Linked DNA regions of Homo sapiens. The protein of the gene in region 5 purifies or fractionates together with the protein of the main gene of each other region. This does not show direct contact. Each region holds a gene or a part of one and is shown on either strand. Other genes may lie near its edges.

Region 1 (3,500 bases), on a different chromosome or scaffold from region 5:
TGTCTTTAACAGCCCTTCTCATTCTTAGTCTATGGCTCTTGAGCAGCAAGGCTAGAGAGGAAGGCAGGAAAAGAACGACTAATCCATGACTAGTTGATGGAGTGTTCATCATGTGCCAGGCACCACTCTAAGCTCTTCAGATGTATTAATCCATCTAATCTGCTTAGCAACTCTTCAGGTAGGTTAGGTGCATGGAAGTTATGTCTAGGCCACTTAACCTTTAAGTGTCAGAGCTGGGATTTGAACCCAGGCAACCTGGTACACAGCCCACACTCTTAACCATTAAACTATAAGAAATGTAAGAAATCACAGGCCAAGCTCTAATAAGCAGGTTCATCCTTGGAGAAAGCCCAGAAAGAGTTCCTATTGCCTCTGGCATTTGCTGCCTCCACCACCTACCCACCCTCAGCTCCTCCCTACTTGCCCCCAACTCCCACCAAGTCCTTTTCTTCCTGATTAGTCAACACTCCCCAGCCATGACACCTTTACCCACTTGAAAGTCCTACCCTGTTATCAAGGAAACAGGCTTGGTGCTCTGTGGAGAGTCCGTAGCACCATGATCAGCCCTGCCCACTTTGCAAAGTCAAGGCCTCAGCAGACCTGACCACTGCGGGTTACACCCCCAGCCAGGCCTCTGCCCCAAGCTGGATCCTCGCCTTGTAGGTACAAGTGGGACTCAATCACCATCATGCAACATGCCTCCCCTGAGCACCTACTGTGTGCACAGGCCCCAGGGGCAGCATTCAGAGGAGGATATGGATGAACTACAATCCTGACCTCTGGGAGCCCACAGTCCAGCAAGGAAAAGCAGTCCTGTAAACGGATCTCTAAGATACCCCGTGGGCAGTGCTAAAATTAGAGGTGTGTCCCCAATGGGCTGAGGGCGCATGTGTCAGAATGATTCACCCTGTGTGGTGGGAAAAGGAGGCTCTAAGTGCCTCAGCGTGAGCTCATTTCTCCCGCAGACATCCCCATGACTTACTGGAAGGGCCAAGGAGCACCTACCTGAGGATGCAGGGACCTGGGGTACATGCCAGCTCTGACAAGTGAGCCTCAAACACACCCTTTTGCAGCCCCAAAGTTCCCTGCCGAAAACAAGAGGGCCCTGAGTGTGGGACAGATAACCATAAGTGGTTTAGGGGTATACCTATCATAGGGACTTACAGACTGAGCTTTCCTCGTTCAATGCCCTTTCGACCCCTCCGATTGCATCAAGGAGCGGGTCTCAGTTTGGGTGCTAGTTTGTCTTTCAGCCCCTCAAGCACTTGCCAACCTACCTTTTGAACAGAGAGGGTAGGCGTCAGGGTCACAGCCTTCAGCACCCATGACATCCAGCTAGGATTTAGTATCATTGTTTTGTTTTCCCTGTACTGTACTTATTTTAAACCTTTACCTGCTATTTATGATGGGCGTCTTGGTTTCCCATTCATAATACTGATATAAAGCCTCCTTTTAAAAATAAATTTAAAGGCGTGCATATTCAGGGCAACTTGAACCTATGTGCCTGGAAAATAAAAAATATATACTTTAAAAAAGGGAAAAAAAGGAAAAGAAATTTAAGTTTAAAAAGGAAGTTTAGGCTGGACACAGTGACTCACGCCTGTAATCCCAGCACTTTGGGAGGCCCAGGCTGGTGGATCATTTAAGGTCAGGAGGTCGAGACAGTCTGGTCAACATGGTAGAACCCCGTCTCTACCAAAAATACAAAAATTAGCCCATCGTGGTAGTAGGCGCCTGTAGTCCTAGCTACTCGGGAGGCTGAGGCAGGAGAATCGCTTGAGCCTGGAAGGCAGAGGCTGCAGTGAGCCAAGATCACACCATTGTACTCCAGTCTAGGTGAAAGAGCGAGGCTCTGTCTCAAAAAAAAAAAAAAGTAAGTAAATTTAAATAAACATATTAAGTAAATAATATTACAATTGGTGTCACCTCTATATAGGACAATTTAATAACATCAAAATGTTAAATGCACATACAAAAACAGGCAAAGCTATTCTATACTGCTAGATAATCCAGTGGTGATCACCCACAAAGGTAAGAGATAGTGCCTAGAAGAGGGTTTGAGGGGTATCTGCCTTCTGCTGTCCATTCTGCTGGTTGACCTGGGGGCTCAGTGTACAGGTGTGTTCACTTTGTGAAAACTCATCAAGCTGTATATACTGATGGCAGGTGCGTGTCTGCATGTATAACATATATTCATATACCCCTTAACTCAACAACCCCACTCCTAGAATTACTCCACAGACATATACACCCATGCAAAATGACACATTCAGAGATACTCACTGTGTCACTGTTCTCAGTGAAAGAAAGAAAGGAAGAAAGAAAGAGACGGGGGGGGGAGAGAGAGAGAGAGAGAGAAAGAAAGAAAGAAAGAGAAAGAAAGAAAGAAAAGAGAAAGAAAGAAAGAGAGAGAGAGAAGAAAGAAAGAAAGAGAAAGAAAGAGAGGGAAAGAAAGACTGGGAACAACCTAAGAGTTCCCCAGCTGGGGACTATTAAATAAATGTGGCATAGCCTAGAGTGGAATCTATGTAGCCAACACACAGAATGAGGCAGCTCCTAGCAGATCTCCATAATTCACGTGGATTTAAATTTAAGTGAAAGAGGGGCTACATACGTAGTTCTGTGTATAGTGTGCTACCTTATTTTAAATATACATATGTTTGTCCTAGGACATCCTTTGACTACGATAGCTCAGAAAAGAGTGACAGGAAACTGATAACAAAGGCCTCCTCTGGACTGGGCAGGCCAGGAGAGAGGGGTAGGAGGGGAGGCTTGTCACTAACCACTACCCTTTCCTTTTTTTTTTTTTTTTTTTTGAGACTGTCACCAGGCTGGAATGCAGTGGCGCTATCTAGGCTCACTGCAACCTCCGCTTCCCGGGTTCTAGCGTTTCTCCACCTCAGCCCTCGCTGTAGCTGAAACTACAGGCACACGCCACCATACCCAGCTAATTTTTGTATTTTTAGTAAAGACGGGGTTCCGCCATGTTGGCCAGGACGGTCTTGATCTCTTAACCTCACGATCCGCCCGCCTCAGCCTCCCAAAGTGCTGGGATTACACCTCACCCGGCCTTACCCTTTTCTACTTCTAAATTTTGTAACAAGCCCATGCATGCATTTCTATCAGTAGTAATTTATTTTTTATTTTTTATTTTCTGCAACAGAGTCTCATGCAGGCTGGAGTGCAGTGGCACAATCTCAACTCACTTCAACCTCCGTCTCCTGAGCTCAGGTGATCCTCCTACCTCAGCCTCCCAAGTAGCTGTGACTACAGGTGCATGCCACCACGCCCAGCTAATTTTTGTATTTTTAGTAGAGACAGAGTTTCATCATGTTGCCCAGGCTGGTCTCGAACTCCCAGGTTCAAGCAATCTGCCCATCTTGGCCTTCCAAAGTGCTAGGATTACAGGCATGAGCCACAATGCCTGGTCAATAGTAATTTTTTTTTTTAAACCGAGTCTTACACTGTCACCCAACTACAGTGCCGTGGCACGATGTCAG
Region 2 (5,096 bases), on a different chromosome or scaffold from region 5:
GAATACATGATACATACGTATGCCTCAAGCATGTTTTTGGTGCAAAAAATGTCAAGTGCATTCTACCTAATAACACAGATTTACGTCATCTTTCTCTCTTAGCACTTTCATTTCATCATCATTTGTTACAGTCACATACCCCTGTGATGTAGGGTTGGGTGGTGACAAAGATTTTGTGTTTTATCTCTATTTTCTAAATAAAGAAAAGTTACTTAAGTAACTTTTCCAAAGCCATGCAGTGTATGAGCTTTCTTAATCTATGTGTAGTAGCCTAGTTCTTCTCAAATTTTAATTAATCAAAGATGTTACATAACTTTTTATTCTAGGTGTCTCTAATATGGCACCACTGCCCTGAATCCAACCCCTATAACCCACTAACTAGTTACGAAAGGCCATGCTGTAGTTCAACTCACATCTTAAGGGAGAAAGTTCCATTTTTAAAGCTACAGCATGAGAGCTTCTGATCTGTTTCACAAACCAGTCTCTTCATTTTTCATTTCAGTTCTGTGTGCCTCACTTCTGATTTCTTCAAATTCAGAGGGTAGAAAGCAATCTCAGAAAGTGCTTAACTCAGTCAGTGTGCAGCCACCCAGAGACCTCCGGAGGAAAATGACAAGCACCAGCTTCAGACAGTGAAGGGAAAGGAAAGCCACGTGCAAATCTGGAATCATCTGCCATTAGCAAAGGTAGAAAATTATAGAGGAACTCTTTGGGGTCACAAGGATGTCATTTAGACCTCCGCAGCAGAAATTTTTTAAATAGTACCCTTCTGGATTCAATGATTTCACCTGCTTGCTCAAGTGCCTAATTTAGAACCAGCAAGCAAATTACAATCTACAGAGTCCAGGCATGAAATTATAAATGTTTGGTTTCTCATGGTCTAGATCTATCTATGTCTTCAAACCAGGGCTGAGAACAAAACCCCCCAATTTTCCCCAACAAAGATCCACCTGACATTCTGACATTTTGCAATATTCATGTATTCAGTCATTCATTCTTGCACACACTCATTTATCAAATTTGGGGGCTCTCAGATACATACCACCATGCATAATGTGAAGAGCAGCTCAGGCTCCTCGCAGAACAGAGCAAGGATGGTTTCCGAAGTTAGGAGACATGGAGAAAGCTGACTAAGATAAGCAAGGGCCCCCAATGCCTGGATGACTAGTTATCTGCTTTTCTTTATCATGCAGACTCGGCCCCTCAATGTTATTTAGAGCAAATATCAAATATTTTTATACAATCGTATGTTCTCTCTGCATTTACAACCTATGTCTTTTTTTTTTTTTGAGATGGAGTCTCGCTGTGTTGCCCAGGCTGTAGTGCAAGTGCATGATCACAGCTCACTGCAACCTTCGCCTCCTGGGTTGAGGTGATTCTCCTGCCTCAGCCTCCTGAGTAGCTGGGATTACAGACGCCCACCACCACACCTGGCTCATTTTTGCATTTTTTTAGTAGAGATGGGGTTTCACCATGTTGGCCAGGCTGGTCTCAAATTCCCGACCTCAAGTGATCTGCCCGCCCAGGCCTCCCAAAGTGCTGGGATTAGCATGAGCCACCACACCCAGACCCACCTGTCTACCTCTTTACTAATTTTTATTCAGCCTTATTTGCTTAGGTTTCACTTGGTATCTATTTGCTCTTTCAACAGAGTCTCTACTTAGATATTTCTGAAAAATTTTTCATGAATTGAACTTTGATACATTACAGCAGCTCACTCATCATATAATCCTTATGCAAAGTGAAGAATCCTCTTTGATGTGAACAGTCACCCCATATGGGTTTGCCAAGTTCACTTCTTTCTTTTTTTTTTTTTTTTTTTTTTTTTAGACAGCGTCTCGCTCTATTGCCCAGGCTGGAGTGCAGTGGCACAATCTTGGCTCACTGAAACCTCTGCCTCCTGGGTTCCAGTGATTCTCCTGCCTCAGCCTCCCGAGTAGCTGGGATTACAGGCACGCACCACCATGCCTGGCTAATTTTTGTTTTTGTATTTTTAGTAGAGAGGGGGTTTTACCATGCTGGCCAGGGCGCTCTTGAACTCCTGATCTCATGATCCGCCTACTCTGTCCTCCCAAAGTGCTGGAACTACAGGTGTGAGCCACTGCGCCCGACCAAGTTCACATTTTCATATGCTAACTTTCTCAAGCTAGGGCCACCTGTACATAAAGGAACAAAACAGCTGGAAAATAGAGTGGATTTGGCTAGGAATTTAAGCATGTTACACTGAAATAACTTTAGCTTTCAATTCTTAGTAAATTCTTCTCAATACATTTCTTTTAAATGTAAATGTCTTATCATATTTCATTTTTGTAAGGTGACTTATGAGTTATTTCTATTTTATGATGTCAAGTTACTGCAATGACCCAAAGTACTACAGTAAAATATCCCTAGAATATTTCGTATTGAGTGCTATGAAGTGGAGACTATTCTCCATTAGCCAGGCAATAGCCATAAAAACTTTTATTCTTTTCCCTTTCTCTTTCTTTCAAATTTTAAGCTATTACCTTTAGAGGTAATGAGTCTGATCATGAACTCACTCCCTCTCTGCTGTTTAATGAACCCCCTCATGGTTTTAGGACAGCAGTGAACCCTTGACATCTATTTACCTTCCATTATAATTTCACATCACAGTAACTGTTACTAGAAACGTAAACATAACCATGGAGTTTTTTAAACCCCAGCACATCTATTAAAATGAAATTTACCTTAAAATTCATGAAACACACAAGGTATATATCATGATTCATGTAAAACACAACATGTCGTGTAAGTTAATATAATCATTCTGAAGTAAATTAGATGTTGTTCACATTAGAGTATTTATTATGTTGGAATTTCCATGTTACTAACTGTTCAAATATTGCCATGTCAATGTTATTTCCCTAAAAGTAGAAATATTCATTTGAATGTACTAAATATACATTTACAAAAATGGCTTTTAGCCATCATGCTACTAACATCAGAAGAAAAGACTATGTCGAGTCATTTAAGCAGTCAAAGATGCGAAAGCAAAATTTGGTGATGTTTCAACTTTCAATTTTTCAGTTTTCAAATACTACAATTTTTCCATTTCCAATCGCAGTTTTACAGAATACCAGGAAGAATTTCAAATTACCCAAAATTGCTTTTTATTTCACTTATTATAATACATTCTAGTACCCTCTACCTCCTAGTAGCTGCTTTTATTATTCTAGTGATGCACACACTAGAAAACGTTTCCTACTGAAATGTTTTCAATCAGATGCTGCCTACCAAAATGAATGGAAAACCATGTGCCATATGAAAAACTTCGAGAGTAAATATAAGAGTGATGGACTCCCACCGGGAGCAGAAAGCCAAAATCACACTTCATAAATATACTTATCTGGGAAGAAAAAACACTGGTTAGACAATATTTAGGACAGATGTATCTTGTTGCACATCAAAACAATCTGTGGACAACACCACAACACTGCGATGCAATTTTACAAGGGAAGCTGGTTGGGCATTTCTGTATTTATTCAACTAGATAATAGAGGGGAAAGCCGCAGAACAGTCAGAAGAATATTTGCAATGCAATTAGGGGGAACAAGTGCATCTGAGTGAGCGCCAGACACAGGGGCCTCCCCTTAATTCACACAGTCCAATGTTTTAATGCAGCGTACAGCAGCAAACTGAACTTCCTACAGTTTTAAAACTTTTGTCAGTTAACTAGATGTTTACCAAGTGCCTCGCTTGGGCACTCAACATTTCGGGTGTGCCATCCAGCTCTATGTAGGTTGTTCCAACACCATCTGTCACTTAAGCTTCCACAGATTCACAAATTTCAATTCGAACTAATCTACTCGGCACTCAAACTGAAGCTATAATTCAAATTTCAACATGAAGCTTGAATTCCTTTTCAGTGTTCTTCAACTTTGACCCAGCTCCCCCCTCCCTTCACTGAAAAGGGCCAAGACAACAGCCCAGCAAGTGGGGCAGGCAAAACAGGCCTCCTTTGTTCACTTTTGTCCTTTCAGCTCTCTATTGAGGTAAGGGACTGAAAAGGCACACCAGGTTTTGGAAGGCAGCAGCGGACTCGCTCGCAAGCCATCCTTCCTCAAAGAACCAAAAAACTCCAGGACAAAACTCTTTGGACAGGCCACTCTTACCTTAAGGCATAATTAATGGGAGATTAGTACTTCCCCTTTCCCTTGAGAGAGAATCTGTTAGTGGTGTTGAATATGAGTCTGTAAATGTTCATCAAAAATGCATGCCATAAATCATGCCATTCAAATGCCAAGGACATCAAAAAGTGGCATGAAATTAGCTTTAAAGTTGAAATTTGGAGAAAAGATCACTACATGCTGAATACTCATACTGAATTTTTTGAATGCTCTCAGCCCACTTGAGAAAGATAAATCAAATTCATTGCATATTACCCAGTGGAAGACCTCCTACAGGATTCCCTCAGATTGCCCTAGAAATAGATTTTTTTTTTTTCTGGTTACAGTGGGTTTTGAACCAACACACTATGCACATAATAAAATTTAAACATATATATATATTCAACATATATATATTCAAAATATAGTTTCCAGCCCTTCCTACCATTATTTAATGAGAAGAATTTCAAAAGGATCATTTTTGCCTGACAGTACCTGTCATTTTCATTCTCATGTGAATTAAACCATGTTTTAGTCCAGGGCAATATGGAAGAAATTCGGAGAGCACATAATACAAGTAAGATTCATCATTCCTGTGTTCGAACTGAATATGCCATTAGGACAGTATGTGAGTACAGGAGCATTAGTGGTTATAATTTGTTCCCTTTACCACTGGCTTTTTTTTTTTTTTATCTTCACTAGCTTCTTAGTCACTTGATGGAAACCCTCCATCAGACTGTTAAAAATTACCTTTTTCTAATTTGAAATTCCAATCTTGTAGGCCAGTAAAATAGGTCAATTAAGTTGACACCACATCTTTTTTATTAGCTCAGCTAAGCAATTATAATTGGGTGGTGAAGGTTTATGCTGTCATCTTGGAAGATTCAATGGTAGGGAGAAATGCCCAATGTGGAACTATAATTTACAATGCCAGTACATCCCTAAACATTCAGCATAAGAATATTTCTATTT
Region 3 (5,096 bases), on a different chromosome or scaffold from region 5:
TAACAGTCAGTTTTTAATTTTGTTTTTGGAGGTGAGATATTTTTAAAAGGTGTCTTTCATTTATTTTAAATTCGAACCTTTGTTTAAACGTTTTTAAAGTTGGTGTCATTATACTACTGTTCACGAATGAATCATTACTACTCTAAAAAATATATGTGACTATAAATTGACCAGAAGGATCCCTCCTCTCTGCTCCCTCCCTGCTTCCTGGGCAACTACTGCCTTTTTTTTTTTTTGGACAGAGTTTTTGCTCCATTGTCCTGGCTGGAGTGCGGTGGCATGATCTCAACTCACTGCAACCTCCACCTCCTGGGTTCAAGCAACTTTCCTGCCTCAGCCTCCCAAGTAGCTGGGATTACAGGTGCCTGCCACCACGCCCGGCTAATTTTTGTATTTTTAGTAGAGATGAGGTTTCACTATGTTGGCCAGGCTGGTCTCGAACTCTTGACCTCAAGTGATCCACCCGCCTCGGCCTCCCAAAGTGCTAGGATTACACGTGAGCCACTGCGCCCGGCTGGCAACGACTGCTCTTATACCTCCTCATTTCTGCTTCATCACTTCTCACTTGGGTCTGGTTTCCACTCCTGCTACTCCACTGAAACTGCTCTTATCAAGGTCACCTATGGCCTCCTTGTTGCCAAACCCAATGGATACTTCTAATGCCTGCCTTACTCGACTTTACTATAGCATTTGATAGTTTTTATCACTTCCTTCTCCTCAAAAATGAATTTTTTCCCTTTCTTCCTGACTTTGCCACCACTGGTTCCTTTTTTTTTCTACTCCTGTGGGTTTTCCTTCTCAGACTCCTTCATCAGCTCCTTCTCCTCTAGCAGCCCCTTAATGTTGGCTGTTAATAGATCAAACCCCAGATCTATATCATAGTCTTCTTCCCATTTTACTTGCTCCCCTGGCGATCTCATCTACATCTGACTTCAACCATCTTATGACTGCACAGTGTATATCTCCAGTTGAGACCCCTCGCTTTAGCTCCAGATACCACATACTCAACTATGCGTGTGTCACAAGTACATCCAACTCAACGTGTCCAAAACTGAATGTAGCCTTTTCCCCTGTAAATCTGTTCATCTGTGTATGTTCCTTACCTCATTGAATGTCCTTGTTATCCCCCTCGGTGCTCAGGCCAACTTACCCACCTGGTTACCAAATCAATTAAGGTTCCTCTTAGTCTTTCATCTCCCTTCCTCAGTCACTAAATCTTCCTAAAATATAATACCTTCAAAAAATCCTTCTCGCCTCCTGTCAGTACTCTCTTAGGTTAGGACCTAAACTCTTATTGCCTGAATGCCTACAGTAGCCCTGTATCTAGCCTTTTAGACCCTCTTTAGTCTAGACCAGTCTTTCTAAAGTAGAAATCTGCTATCAAGCCTCTGCCTTCTATGACTTCATTTTACTTTTGGGATAAACTTCAAATTCCCTTCCCCAACAGATAAGATCTTTTATGATTCAACTCCTGCCAATCTTTCAAACCTCAACTCTTGTCACTTTATAAGCCAGCCATACTAAACTACTTGATTCACTGGATGGGCTGTGTTGTCTCCATCCTTGACTGATATGTACTACTATTCCCCTACGTGGAATATACCCATTTCTTCTAGTTTGTTACCTGCCCAGGTGACATCTCTGGAAAGACTTCCCTAATGTCTTACTCCCCCAGGGTTGCATAGTTGTCTCTTTTCTGTTTTTATAATACCTTGTATACATATATATATATAGCATTATGATTGTTTATTCAGTCTGTTTTCACCAACTGGACCGAGTTTTCCTTGACATTATGATTGTTTATTCAGTCTGTTTTCACCAACTGGACCGAGTTTTCCTTGAAGGAGGGACCTTGTTTTCATCTCTGAACCCTGGAGGCCTACCTAGCATAGTACACTCATTCACGTATTAAAAGAATGGCTGGCTAGTCAGAATGAAAGGCAATAGGAAGGTAAAATGCAGCTAGTAGTGGTATACTATGCATGGAGTTAAGGAAAGTTCCAGAAGTTTGGGTTTTATTTGTAGTTGAGGTATGTCCATACAATGAAATATCGTTTGGTCGTAAAAGTAAATGAGGTTCTGATGCATGCTACAACATAGATAAACCTTGAAAATATGCTAAGTGAAAGAAGTCAGACACAAAAGGCCATATATTGTAGGAGTTCATTTATATGAAATGTCTAGAAAAGACAGGTCCATAAAGAAAGAAAGTAGATGAGTGGTTGCCAGGGGCTGTGGATTCGGGCATGGGGGAATGGAGAGTGACTGCTAGTAGGTGTGGGGTTCTTTTTGGAGGGAAGGAAAATGTTCTAGAATTAGATAGTGGTGATTGATGTTCAACTTTGTGAATACACTAAAGACCACTGAATTGTACAGTTTTTAAAAGGATAAACTTTTGGTGTTTGAATTAGATATCAGTAAAGCCATTACTAAACAATTATAGTCGATCAATATAGTTTTATAGGGCTGGGCATGGTGGCTCAGGTCTGTAATCCCAGCAGTTTGGGAGGCCGAGGTGGATGGATTACAAGGTCAGGAGTTCGACCTTGGTCAGGAGCCTGGCCAACATGGTGAAACCCCATCTCTACTAAAAATACAAAAATTAGCCAGGTGTGTTGGTGTGAGCCTATAATCCCAGCTACTTGGGAGGCTGAGGCAGGATAATTGATTGGACCCGGGAGGCGGAGGTTGCAGTGAGCCGAGATCATGCCACTGCACTCCAGCCTGGGCAACAGAGCAAAATTTCGTCTCAGAAAAAAAAAAAATTTAGTTTTACAGTACCTAGAACATTGTGCATATTTGAATGTCAGTAGGATGATCCAGCAATCTGTTTGATGTCATAGTGCCAGATTCAGGACTTCTATTCCATGTTTTGATTTTGAAGCAGATTTTTAAAATTAAAATCTGATCTTTTAGAAGTAGAAGAACTCAATCAACCTACAAATATTATTGACTTTTCAATTTGTTAAATGTGCATTGTTTGGCCAGTCATGTGCTTTGGGAATAAACTTGCGAAGTGCATTGTTTAAGTCTTATAAATTGATGAATGGAGGTGAAAAACAAATTTCTTTTTTTTTTTTTTTGAGACAGGGTTTCACTTTGTTGCCCAGGCTGGAGTGAAGTGGCATGATCTCGGCTCACTGCAACCTCTGCCTCCTGGGTTAAAGCAATTCTCACACCTCAGCCTCCTGAGTAGCTGGGATTACAGGCGCCCGCCACCACGCCCGGCTGATTTTTTGTATCTTAGTAGAGTTGGGGTTTCACCAAGTTTCCCAGGCTGGTCTCGAACTTCTGAGCTCTCAGGCAATCCACCCATCTCGGCCTCCCAAAGTGCTAAGATTACAGGCATGAGCCACCGCGCCTGGCCAGAAAACACATTTCTAACACGATTGCACTGTCGAGTTGGGACACATTGGAGCATATTCTGTCTACAGATGATTTGAAGATATTTTCTCCTTTTGTTACCTTCCTCATTACTTATTTAAATATTGATCTAGAAATGCAGTGATCTGTGCTGTTGTCCTAGGGAATGTTTTTCTCTCCTGTTTCACTGGATTATATGAAGATTGGGCTGTTTGTTGTATGAATTTAGTAATATTTTAAAACATAACTGCATTTCATCTAAAAATCAGTTCTGAGCTACAGGGAACTACCGTAAGAGATTTTCTCTTATCCATAGTTATGCGTGGGGTACAAAAGAAGTGGTCTCTGTCGGCAAGAAGAGCTTATGTTGTTCTTTTTTCCAGGTCTTTTGGTGGGCCTTGTGCTTCGGTATGGCATTCATGTTCCGAGTGATGTAAATAATGTGACCCTGAGCTGTGAAGTGCAGTCAAGTCCAACTACCTTACTGGTAAATGTTAGTGGAAAATTTTATGAGTATATGCTGAAAGGAGAGATTAGTTCACATGAACTCAATAATGTTCAAGATAATGAAATGCTTAGAAAGGTAAGTTCTTAAAGGAAATCTTTGAATCTTTTTTGTGTCTAACTAGCAGCAAAATGATCCAGGAGAAAATAAGTAATGGATTTTTAATGATATTTAAAATAATGAGTCTTTTTCAATGGAGTAAAACCTCAATTAACAAATGTAATAATGTAAGGAAATGGATATGTCTGTACAACTCATTTTCTGATTGAGGTTAAGTAGTATAACTCTTTTTGTTTCTCTCTGGATTGTTTACAGCTTGTTGTGATAAATGGAGACTGGGATTGAGTTAAGCAGAATTTATAAGCGTTTCTTTCCATTTGCAGATGGTCCTTATAGTTTTCTTTTTCTTTTTCTTTCTTTATTTTATTTTTTCTGAGATGGAGTCTCACTCTGTCACCCAGGTAGAGTGCAGTGGCATGATCTTGGCTCACTGCAGCCTCTGTCTCCTGGGTTCAAGCAATTCTCCTGCCTCAGCCTCCCGTGTAGCTGGGATTACAGGCATCCACCACCACACCCGGCTGATTTTTGTATTTTTTAGTAGAGACGGGGTTCTACCATGTTGGCCAGGCTGGTCTCCAACTCCTGACCTCAAGTGAATCCCCCGCCTCGGCCTCCCAAAGTGCTGGGATTACAGGCATGAGCCACTGCGCCCAGCCGGTCCTTATAGTTTTATAGTACTTCAGCACATTGGCTTTATTTGATAATACCTAAAATATTCTATTAATATTTCTTTCAATTCTTTCTTGCCTTGCTTGTATTCTATACCGATCACAATTTAATCTTTCTTTGATTCACAATCTGACACAACTTCAGGGGCCCTAAGTGTGAGTCTGAGTTATTGTACCATATTGTGCATAAAGCTTTATGTTAGAGTTTGAGTTGCAATTGTACTGGCTCCCAGAAATCCCTGGAGCTGCTTTCTCCTGTCTCCCTCATAGGTTTATCATGACGTTTCTCATGATAAACGGCTCAATGCCACTTTGCTCATGTCTCTTTGTTTTCTCCTACCTTTGCTGTTTGCCTTCACTTCTGTCTGCTACATTGGCAGGACTTGACTTTTTTTTTTTTTTTTTTTTTTTTTTGACACAGGGTTTTACTCTGTCACCCAGGCTGGAGTGTAGTGGCACGATCTCAGCTCTCTGCAACCCCCGCCTCCCAGGCTCAGGTG
Region 4 (5,096 bases), on a different chromosome or scaffold from region 5:
CAAAAGTCAGGCTTTTAGAGTCTCCACGTAACAGGAAGGCGGGGACGGGAGGGCGGAGGCCTGTGCCACGCAGGGCCGGCTCTGGGGATACAGAGGGCCATCCTGGGCATTCAAATGCCGCTTGCTTGGGGTGCTGTGGGGCCCTCACGGGAGTGCAGCCGCCTGGGGCTTGACAACATCCCCGCACTCCCGGTACCACCTGAGGCCAGTTCCTCCAGCCCTATTCAACCACTCTCACCACCACCTCATCTAGACATGAGTTGCCCCTGCCGGGAACCGCCCCGCAGCCACCCACCCAGGCCGCCTCAGCGGGGGCTTTGGGACCCAATCTTCAAGCCCCACCCTTCACAACAGGCCTAGGCGGCCATCCCCAGGGCAGTGAGCAGGAGCACAGACCTGCAAGGACCACAGCCCCACACGGGCCAGGCTAGGATGAAGGGCCCCCACTACCCATGCTGCCCCGCAGCCGTGCCCTCCCTGCACTCACCTTGAAGGTGGGCAGACGGATGGTCTTCAGCATGTAGAGGCAGAAGGCGATGCCCAGGGCATCCTGGAGGACCCAGGCCCACCTGCAAGACAAAGCAGCATCCTCGCCGGGGCAGAGGCTGGCTGACCACCCAGGACGCCGCCTCCCACGAGCCACACAGGGCCCTTGCTCTCAGCCAGCACGCAGCCCCACTGCCCTTCCACCTGCCCAGGGGATGACTCTGAGGACCCCAGACCTGTGGGAGGACCCCTGCTGTTACAACTCCAGCAGGGCTGGCGGCACAGGCCCCACCCCAGGGCCCACCCTGCGGAAGCAGGTAGAGGAGCCCACCACTCGGCAGCCAGGACAGTGGACACAGGCCTGGCCGGCTGCGTCTCCTCGGTCGCTGTCCCCAGATGGTGGGGCCAGGACGGTGGACACGGGCCTGGCCGGCTGCGTCCCCTCAGTCGCTGTCCCCGGATGGTGGGGCCAGGATGGTGGACACGGGCCTGGCCGGCTGCGTCCCCTCAGTCACTGTCCCCGGATGGTGGGCGTCACGCTGTAGGCAGGGGTCACAGGCTGTAGGCAGGGGCCAGGCAGAGGGTGCGTGCGCAGGAGGGCTTGGGCACTGACCCCTCCAAACTGTTTTTATTTTGTTTTTGAGATGGAGTCTCACTCTGTCACCCAGGCTGGAGTTTGGTGGCACGATCTTGACTCGCTGCAACCTCCACCTCCCAGGTTCAAGCAATTCTCCTGCCTCAGCCTCCCAAGTAGCTGGGATTACAGGCACACACCACAATGCCAGGCAAATTTTTTTGTATTTTTAGTAGAGATGGGGTTTTGTCATGTTGGCCAGGCTGGTCTCAAACTCCTGACCTCAAGTGATCTGCCCGCCTCACCTCCCAAAGTGCTGGGATTACAGGCATGAGCCCCCGTGCCCAAACTGTTTATTAAATTAAAACTTGTGCCACACCAGGTTTCCTCAAAGAACCTCTGGGTCCACAGTGGGTGGGGCTGCCATGCGGTTGGTGCCCTGGGGCAAAGCACAGAACTGCCTCCTGCACAAGGCCACGGCCCCTGCAGCCAGCCGCAACTTCGGCTCTCTCCTGGCCCCACGAAGCCCCAGAGTCCCCTCCCCGCTGGCCCCTGCCCCCAATGCAGGCTCTGCCTGTCACTTGCTGGACGAGTTCCCCAGCGTTCCTCAGCGTCTCAAACATCAAAGGCTTCATTTGAAAATGGGATAAAAACATCTCCAGGGCGGGGCGGCTGCTAACAGCAGAGGCCTCCATGGGAGACGCTGGTACAGCCAATTCCAGGCGCCACGTACTTCAAGCACCCAGAGAACTGCGGCCAGTTATTTTTTCTGATTTTATATTATTTCTTAAATAGGGCGTCTCGCTTGTTGCCCAGGCTGGTCTTGAACTCCTGGGCAAAGTGATCGTCCTGCCTTGGCCTACCAAATGCTGGGATCCCAGGCGTGAGCCCCTGCGCCCAGCTGACTGAGGCCTGCTCTAACTTCATGTGACGGAGCGAGTTTCCTGGCTTGGAAATAACTGAAAAGATTCATTTTCTCTTTGTGTACAAAGGATTCAAAATATTTTCACATCTTCCTTCTGCCAGTTAAACGTGCCGTGGCTCCAATACACACCAAAGCCAAGCGTACTTGGCTGCCTCAGGAAGGCTGGGAGGAAGTGCCAGATGGTATCAGCGACAGCGGTGGGGACCGGGCGGGGACGGGCCAGCTCTGTCCTCCCAACACGGCACCAGGCACTCGGCCTCATGGGGGAGGCCCGGCCAGCGGGAGGCAGCCACAAGTCCAGGCCACGTGGGAGGTGAGCGTGGGGGGAGCAGTGCCTGCCCCACCTCCACCACTGCTCAGAAGCCGCAGCAGTCATGACCAAGAGGACCGGGTGCCCTGGTGCCCACACCCTGGGCCTCGAACCTGCGGCGTGCACGTGGGTGCCAGGAAAGGGACAGCGGGGGACAGACTGTGGCCCTGGGCAGCGATGCCCCACAAAGGAGTCCCATCCAGGCTGGAGGACGTGGCTCCTGGCCACAGGGGCTCCGGCCTCTCCTCCCGGATTCCAGTCAGGGTTCCCATGACACCCGGACAAACCCCAGGTGAAACGCCCTCGCAGCCCTGTCAGAGCAGCCCGGGGCCAGGGCTCTTCATCACGCGGTGCTGAAGCAGCTCCAGGCTGGGGCGGCCTCCAGGGAGGGCAGGGAGTCAGGGCCCCAGGAGCCCTGGTGCACCCGAGGACTCCGCTGCCCGCCGGGGCCCGGGGGAAGCAGCACTTACTGGTCCTCGTTGCGGAAGACGCCCCACACCACGCTGACGGCCACGCAGAAGAGCGCCAGGAGCAGCATACGGGCCTGCGGGCGCTTGTGGAAGTAGGGCAGGCTGTTGTTGGGGATCCTGGGGGGCACGGGGCAGTCAGAGCCAAGCCCACCAGCTCCCGGCCTCATCCCACTGCCCACCACCCTTGGGACCGGCCCAGGCACCCCCTGCAGAGTGGCAGCCCCCACTCTGTTGTCCTCATTAAACTCCACATCCCACACGATGACAACAGTAGGCACCCCAAGGGCAGGGCAGAGCCCGACCCGGGCAGGCGCTGGGGGCCACGGGCTGTACCCACAGAGCCCCTCGCCTGCGCTGCGCCCCTTCGCCCGAGGCCCTGCCTGCTCCAGACCTCCCACCTCCTCACCCAGGGACGGCAACACAAAAAGGTCTCCCCCTGGGCTAGCCCCGCTTCCTAGACCCAGGTCTGACTTTGTTGGAGACCCCCCAGCAGCTCCCTTTACCCCTAAGAGCCAGGCCAAGCTCTGGGCTGTGGGGAACCTTCTGGGTTCCCCGGAGAACCCTGGGGAACCCAGGGTTCGGCCTGCGACCTGGGGCAGGGTTCCTGGGGACAAGGGCACCCTCCCCCCGCCACCCCTGGCGCCTGGCTGCTGGTGGGCTCCATTGATAGCTCGCCCAGACTCCGCCCTGCTCCTGGGCCTAGGAGCCCCAGGCCAGCACTGAGGGAGCGCCTGCTGTAGACTCTGAGCAATATTGCACCATGGGGGGCTATGGGGCGGCAAAGGGGCCGTGGCCATCACCGCACAGAGTCAGGCACGTCGGGGCCAGCAGGGCAGACTCACCTGCACTTGCCGAAGGGCAGCCGCCGCACACAGGGCGCCAGGCAGCTGTAGAGGCCGGTGGCGGAGGCCAGGCAGAAGATCCCGATGACCACGTACACTGCAGGGGCAGGGCCGTGAGGCCGGGGGCCAGGCCCGCACGCCACCCTCCCTCCGCACGGGGCGGGCTGCATCTCCACGCCGCGGCCCACCCGCCCGGGGCCGCGCACCGAGGAGATCGTAGAAATAGTAGAGCAGCACCAGCATGGAGCAGCACATCACCACAAACACGCAGGTCATCACCGGCGTCACGTCCACCGCCTCGTCCTCCTGCTTCTCGGGCCCATCGTCGCGCTTGTGCTTCATGTACCTTCTTGGGAGACACCATGGGGTCGTGGGGCCCTGGGGCCGGCTGGCCGACACGGGGCTCGGGAGCCCACAGCCACCCGGGGGAACGGGGCAGAAAACCCGGGAGCAGGAGGGGACCCGGGGGGGACTGAAGTGCAAGGAACCGCCCCGAACGTCCCCAGGGCAGAGGAGACCACACAGCAGAGGGTGGCAGGGCCCGCGTCCCTGGGTTGAGCTGGGGTGGCCACTAGGCCGGGCCAGAGGCTGGCGTGTGGGCAGCAACCGCAGCTTGGATCTGCATAAAGAGCCCTGGACATGGGGCCTCCCCAGACCCAGGCGGCTCAGCAGGAAGAGGGTAGCTGGCCCCAGCCACCTGCCCAGCCCTGCACCTGCCACGCCCGTACCTGCCACATCCACACCTGCCCAGCCCTACACACCCACCAGGTGCCCGGAGCCCACCCTGGCAGGAAAAGAGACTGATTCTGTCCCAGGACCTCCTGAGGAAGAAACGAAGGGCTCCACGGGGCGAGCCGTGCCTGCCGAGGCCAAAGCACTCACTGCTGTTCTGGAAGACTGGCCGTCCCGGCCCGTGTCAGAGCCGCCCGACCCCGTCACAGCACACGCACGATGCGAAACTCACTTCTTCACGTCCCGACTCCCGGCCCAGTAGCCGCCGATGGCGACGGTGCCCACAGCCATGATGAAGATGATGACCATGTTGTAGTCCAGCACCGGCTCCTTAGGCGCATACAGCGCCGCCCTCACCGTGCGGCCGAAACGCTGCCTCAAGGAACACACCGGAGGCAGGCGTCAGAGCCACCCGCCAGCCATGGGTCGACGTGCAGCTGTGGGCTGTGGGGCTGGGGCTGGAGACCCTGGCCTGCAGGGGCCACGCCTCACCCACCACCCTGATCCCACCAACTGAGGCACAAACCCCCCCGGCAGCCAGCCCGAAGCCCCCTGCCCCATCTCCTCGGGAGCGTGGGTCTGAGCCGGCGCAGACCTACCGTGAAGATGTCCAGCATGTCTTTGTAGCTGAGCAGGGCCACGGGAATGCCAATCTCATCATACTGCGTCTTATTACCCCCCGGGGGGACCTGGGGGCCCAGAGGAGGGAGCGGCAGGCATCACCCGCAGCAGTGGGTGGGCCCCCAGCTCTGTGCCC
Region 5 (5,096 bases):
ATGGAGAAACCCCATCTCTACTAAAAATATAAAATTAGCCAGGCGTGGTGGCACATGCCTGTAATCCCAGCTACTTGGGAGGCTGAGGCAGGAGAATCGCTTGAACCCAGGAGGCGGAGGTTGCAGTGAGCTGAGATCACGCCATTACACTCCAGCCTGGGCAACAAGAGCGAAACTCTGTCTCAAAAGAAAAAAAAAGAAAGGGTGTAGGGAAGCTTTGGAGTCATAAAGACAGGGGTGGGATTCAGGTAAGGGGGAGATGTCAGATTCCAGCTCTGACAACCTTATGGCCTCAATTTACTCTTCTGTAAAGTGGTAATACAAAGCCTGTCTTTGGGGATCATTTTAAGGATTAAAGATAACAGTACATGACACAGTAGGCACTTAACCAGTGAGAGCTGTGACTATTAATAATTAGCTCCAGCACCATCCTTACTGATGCAGATGGCAGATTTGGGGTAAAAAATTGTAAGCCCAGAAATAATGCAGATTTTTGGAGGTCTGTCACAAAGTTCAAGGATTTGGTTTCACAGAAGTAGTTTCAGAGCCATGCTGAGGCCCAACTTAAATCATGAGTAGAATTCATCATAAACTTGGAAGCAGCAAGGTCACACCAGTACCAGCAAGAAGTGACAGCTAAAGGGGGAGGGTATTCAGCTCAGTCCAGCCGACACTGAGGGCATCCCTGCCATGTGCAAGTGTATTAAGGGGTATGGCAGGTGCTAGTGGCCCTGCCCTCCAGGAGCTTAAAGCTAGTGGAAGAGGCTGTCCCACAAACCAGGGGTCCCCGGCCTCTTAGGAGGTGAGCAGCGGGGCGAAGGGGCATTACAGCCTGAGCTCCACCTCCTGTTGGATCAGCAGGGCATTAGATTCTTTGTTGTTGTTGTTGTTGTTGTTGTTGTTGTTGTTGAGATGGAGTCTTGCTTTGTTGCCCAGGCTGGAGTGCAATGGCGCAATCTCAGCTCACTGCAACCTCCGCCTCCCAGGTTCAAGCTATTCTCCTGCCTCAGCCTCCCGAGTAGCTGGGATTACAGGCGCCCACCACCACACCTGGCTAATTTTTGTATTTTTAGTAGAGACAGGGTTTCACCATGTTGGCCAGGCTGGTTTCAAACTCCTGACCTCAGGTAATCTGCCCACCTAGGCCTCCCAAAGTGCTGGGATTATAGGCTGAGCCACCGCGCCCAGCCAAGATTCTCATAGGAGTGCGAACCCTACCGTGAATTGCACATGCAAGGGATCTAGGTTGCGTGCTCCTTATGAGAATCTAATGCCTGATGATCTGAGGTGGAACAGTTTCATCCCAAAACCATCCCTCCCCTCCCCTAGTACATGGAAAAATTGTCTTCCAAGAAACCAGTCCCTGGTGCCAAAAAGGTTGGGGACAGCTGCCATAAATGCTTTACCTACATCCAAATGCTATAGGGACACAAAGAAGGGCACAGAACTAGTAAAGCAAGATGTGTGAGGGCAGGCAGTGAAGGAGTGAACACCCTAGCATACTTCCAGAGCTTTCCACAGGCCAGGCACAGTGGCGCACACCTGTAATCCCTGCCCTTTGGAAGGCCAAGGCAGGAGGATCGCTTGAGCCCAGAAGTTCAAAACCAGCCTGGACAACATGGCAAAACCCCATTTCTACAAAAAAAATAGAAAAATTAGCTGGGCATGGTGGCATAAGCCTGTAGTGCCAGCTACTCAGGAGGCTGAGGCAGGAGGATCACTTAAGCCTAGGAGGTCGAGGCTGCAGTAAGTAAGCCATGATGGTACCACCATACTCCAGCAGTTTTTGAGACAGAGCAAGACCCTGTCTCAAAAACAAAAACAAACAGAACTTTCCACAGGGCAGGAGAGTAACTGGTATCTTGACAATGATGATTAAGAATGGGACCTATTACATATATAAAATACATTCTGTTTAAAAAGTGGATGGAAAAAGAACAAGTTTTTGGAAAAACTTTATAACATGAGAGATGCTCAAAATATGATACAGAGAAAGAAGAGTTGGGTAGGAAATTATATTATTTAGTATGAGCTCAATTCCATGGAAAAAGGCAGGAAGGAGAATAACAAATATTGATAGCTGTGATCTCTAGAGAGTGTTGGGTGAGTTTTGGTTTCTCTTCTGTATTTTCCAAAGTTTTAATAATATACATGCCTTAATTTTTTAAGGTAGAAGAGGTGTAATTTTTTTTTTGTGTGGTTTTTGTTTTGTTTTGTTTTGAGAGAGAGTCTCAATCTCTCGCCCAGGCTGGAGTGCAGTGGCTCGATCTCAGCTCACTGCAACCTCTGCCTCCCAGGTTCAAGCGATTCTGCTGCCTCAGCCTCCCGAGTAGGTGAGATTACAGGCGTCCACCACCATGCCCAGATAATTTTTTGTATTTTTAGTAGAGACAGGGTTTTGCGATGTTGCCCTGGTTGGTCTCAAACTCCTGATCTCAGGTGATCCACCCGCCTCGGCCTCCCAAAGTGCTGGGATTACAGGCATGAGCCACAGCGCCTGGCCGTGTAATGTTCTTTTGAATATTCTGAGGAGGGCAGGAGATCCATGACACTAAGAGGCTGGCTGCCTTCCTGTGTATGACAAGGATTTGTGGATTATATTATTCAGTGTTAACTAATCTAATCTTCACAACAGGGCTAAGTGTTCTTAAAATGTCCTGCAAAGAAGCCATGGCTTGAGATTAATGCCAATTACCCTGGCACATAACAAGGAAAATGACAACCTTCTCTTCCTGGTATGAACTCGTTGTCAATCGCCAGGTAAAAACAATGAAGGACTAATCAGGTCTAATAAATCAGCCTGTGCATGGAAAAATAACGACTGTGGGGAAGAAACTCACACTATGGAGGGGGTGTTGTAAAAACGTGTTGAGAAATGCATCCATAGTGATTAATGTCAGTGCCCCAAACTTTCCTACCTGCACACTCAAAACACTTGGAAAAAGAATTTTCTAGATAGGGTCTTGCTACATTGCCCAGGCTGGTCTCGAACTCCTGGCTTCAAGTGATCCTCCCAGTGCTCAGCGTCCCAGCCTACTAGCCAATTTTTAAACAAAAATGTTTGTTTAATTGGTAGAAGGACTAAAAATGGGGAGAATTATTTAGAAATGATGGATGAACTTTTTTCACTTCAATCTATTTGTCTTTGTGAGGCATATTTAATCTATAGCCACCATGAAATGCATGTTTTGAAATAACTTTGATTTTCAACACGTTAGACCTGTGAGTCATGAGTCATAAAGTGTCAGACTAAAATTTTTTAAAAACGTGAAGTACATGTAATCACATTGCTCTTATTAAAATTATTTAGACAATTTTTTTGTTGAACAACCTTCAACTTTCATGAACTACGCAAAATATGGACCCTTCAGGAATTTGCATAGCATCCTTGTGCAGGGCCATGCTAATCTTCTCTGTATTGTTTCACTTTTTGTACATGTGCTGCCAAAGTGAGCATATTAAACAATAATTATTATAATTGATCTTTTTTTTTTTTGGAGAAAGGGTCTCACTCCATTACCCAGGGTGGTATACAGTGGCATGACCATGGCTCATTGAAGCCTCTACCTCCTGGGTTCAGGAGATCCTCCCACTTCCCACCTCCTGGGTAGCTGGAACTACAAGTGTGCACCATCACACCTGGTTAATTTTCCTATTTTTTGTAGAGACATGGTCTCTCCATGTTGTCCAGACTGGTCTCGAACTCCTGGGCTCAAGTCATCCTCCTGCCTCAGCCTCCCAAAGTGCTGGGATTACAGGTGTGAGCCACCTCTCCCAGCCAATTAATCACTTTTGAGTGAGCACAAAAAAATGTTTTCATACCACTAGTAAAAAAAAAAAAAAAAAAAAAAGGTGTTTTTTTTGTTGTTTTTTTTTTCTTTGTTTATTTTTTTGAGACGGAGTTTCGCTTTTGTTGCCCAGGCTGGAGTGCAATGGCACGATCTTGACTCACCGCAACTTCCGCCTCCAGGATTCAAGCAATTCTCCTGCCTCATCCTCCCGAGTAGCTGGGATTACAGGCATGTGCCACCACACTCAGCTAATTTTGTATTTTTAGTAGAGATGGGGTTTCTCCATGTTGGTCAGGCTGGTCTCGAACTCCTAATCTCAGGTGATTCACCCGCCTCAGCCTCCCAAAGGGCTGGGATTACAGGCATGACCCACCACGCGCAGCCAAAAAAATGTTTTAAACTTAAAAGTATTTAAAAATCTTTAGCTAATGTTTTATACTCTTTTGTTCTTATACATATTTTACTATATATAATATTAGTCATATTAGTATGGAAGTAGGTTTTATTTACACACACATATACATATATAAGTTAAATGTACACACACATAGTTTGGTCATGTAAGCTCAATATTTTGTTTTACTAATAGGAGTTCATTATCAAAATCTTTGATAATCAGGCCGGCAATCAGGCCGGGCGCGGTGGCTCACATCTGTAATCCCAGCACTTTGGGAGGCCAAGGCAGGTGATCACCTGAGTTCAGGGGTTCGAGACTAGCCTGGCCAACATGGTGAAACCCCATCTCTACTAAAAATACAAAAATTAGCCAGGGGTGGTGGCAGGTGCCTGTAATCCCAGCTACTCGGGAGGCTGAGGCAAGAGAATTGGTTGAACCCAGGAAGCAGAGGTTGCAGTGAGCCGAGATCGCGCCACTGCACTCCAGCCTGGGTGACAAGAGTGAAACTCCTTCTCAAAAAAAAAAAAAAAAAATCTTTGGCAATCACTGATCTAGAACACTCACCAAATTATTTGGACAACCTTGCTTCCCGGAGGATTGGAAGGTGCTACTACAGTGAGTCATTTTCCAAGGAGTCTGGCCCTGGTACTGGAGCCAGGTGAAAGAGAAGTTGGTGGGTACAGGCAAGAGGCCATGAGTTTGGTGCTGCCAAAAGGCCAGGACTCCTGAGGCTCAGCCTTTCCCTGTTCACGTCCTCTCCCCTGACTCCCTTGGGTGCCCCATTGCCACCTCCTACCTTGTTGAGGAACTGGATCCAGTCAGAGGGGCAGCCCCCCAGGGCTGTAGTTGGCAGGTCTGGGGGCTGCGTTTCTTTGGTGACGTTGCTGCGCTTGCAGATGTAGGGCAAG

Evidence for each region.
Region 1: the proteins of MRC2 (region 5) and TSPAN15 purify together in Homo sapiens (co-immunoprecipitation; one large-scale study listed by IntAct). This does not show direct contact.
Region 2: the proteins of MRC2 (region 5) and NRCAM fractionate together in Homo sapiens (co-fractionation; one large-scale study listed by BioGRID). This does not show direct contact.
Region 3: the proteins of MRC2 (region 5) and SLC9A6 fractionate together in Homo sapiens (co-fractionation; one large-scale study listed by BioGRID). This does not show direct contact.
Region 4: the proteins of MRC2 (region 5) and SPPL2B purify together in Homo sapiens (co-immunoprecipitation; one large-scale study listed by IntAct). This does not show direct contact.

What each region holds. Positions count from the first base shown.
Region 1 is NC_000010.11:69,454,465-69,457,964, reverse strand, and holds part of TSPAN15 (tetraspanin-15), read right to left. Parts: intron 1-3,500. UniProt on the Homo sapiens protein: Part of TspanC8 subgroup, composed of 6 members that interact with the transmembrane metalloprotease ADAM10.
Region 2 is NC_000007.14:108,445,457-108,450,552, forward strand, and holds part of NRCAM (neuronal cell adhesion molecule isoform A precursor), read right to left. Parts: intron 1-5,096. UniProt on the Homo sapiens protein: Cell adhesion protein that is required for normal responses to cell-cell contacts in brain and in the peripheral nervous system. Plays a role in neurite outgrowth in response to contactin binding.
Region 3 is NC_000023.11:135,991,040-135,996,135, forward strand, and holds part of SLC9A6 (sodium/hydrogen exchanger 6), read left to right. Parts: intron 1-3,746; coding exon 3,747-3,946; intron 3,947-5,096. UniProt on the Homo sapiens protein: Endosomal Na(+), K(+)/H(+) antiporter. Mediates the electroneutral exchange of endosomal luminal H(+) for a cytosolic Na(+) or K(+).
Region 4 is NC_000019.10:2,338,684-2,343,779, reverse strand, and holds part of SPPL2B (signal peptide peptidase-like 2B isoform 2 precursor), read right to left. Parts: exon of another isoform or gene 5,029-5,096; coding exon 4,939-5,028; intron 4,716-4,938; coding exon of another isoform or gene 4,712-4,715; coding exon 4,572-4,711; exon of another isoform or gene 4,490-4,571; intron 3,957-4,489; coding exon 3,814-3,956; intron 3,705-3,813; coding exon 3,608-3,704; intron 2,883-3,607; coding exon 2,766-2,882; intron 570-2,765; coding exon 488-569; intron 1-487. UniProt on the Homo sapiens protein: Intramembrane-cleaving aspartic protease (I-CLiP) that cleaves type II membrane signal peptides in the hydrophobic plane of the membrane. Functions in ITM2B and TNF processing.
Region 5 is NC_000017.11:62,682,266-62,687,361, reverse strand, and holds part of MRC2 (C-type mannose receptor 2 precursor), read right to left. Parts: coding exon 4,985-5,096; intron 1-4,984. UniProt on the Homo sapiens protein: May play a role as endocytotic lectin receptor displaying calcium-dependent lectin activity. Internalizes glycosylated ligands from the extracellular space for release in an endosomal compartment via clathrin-mediated endocytosis.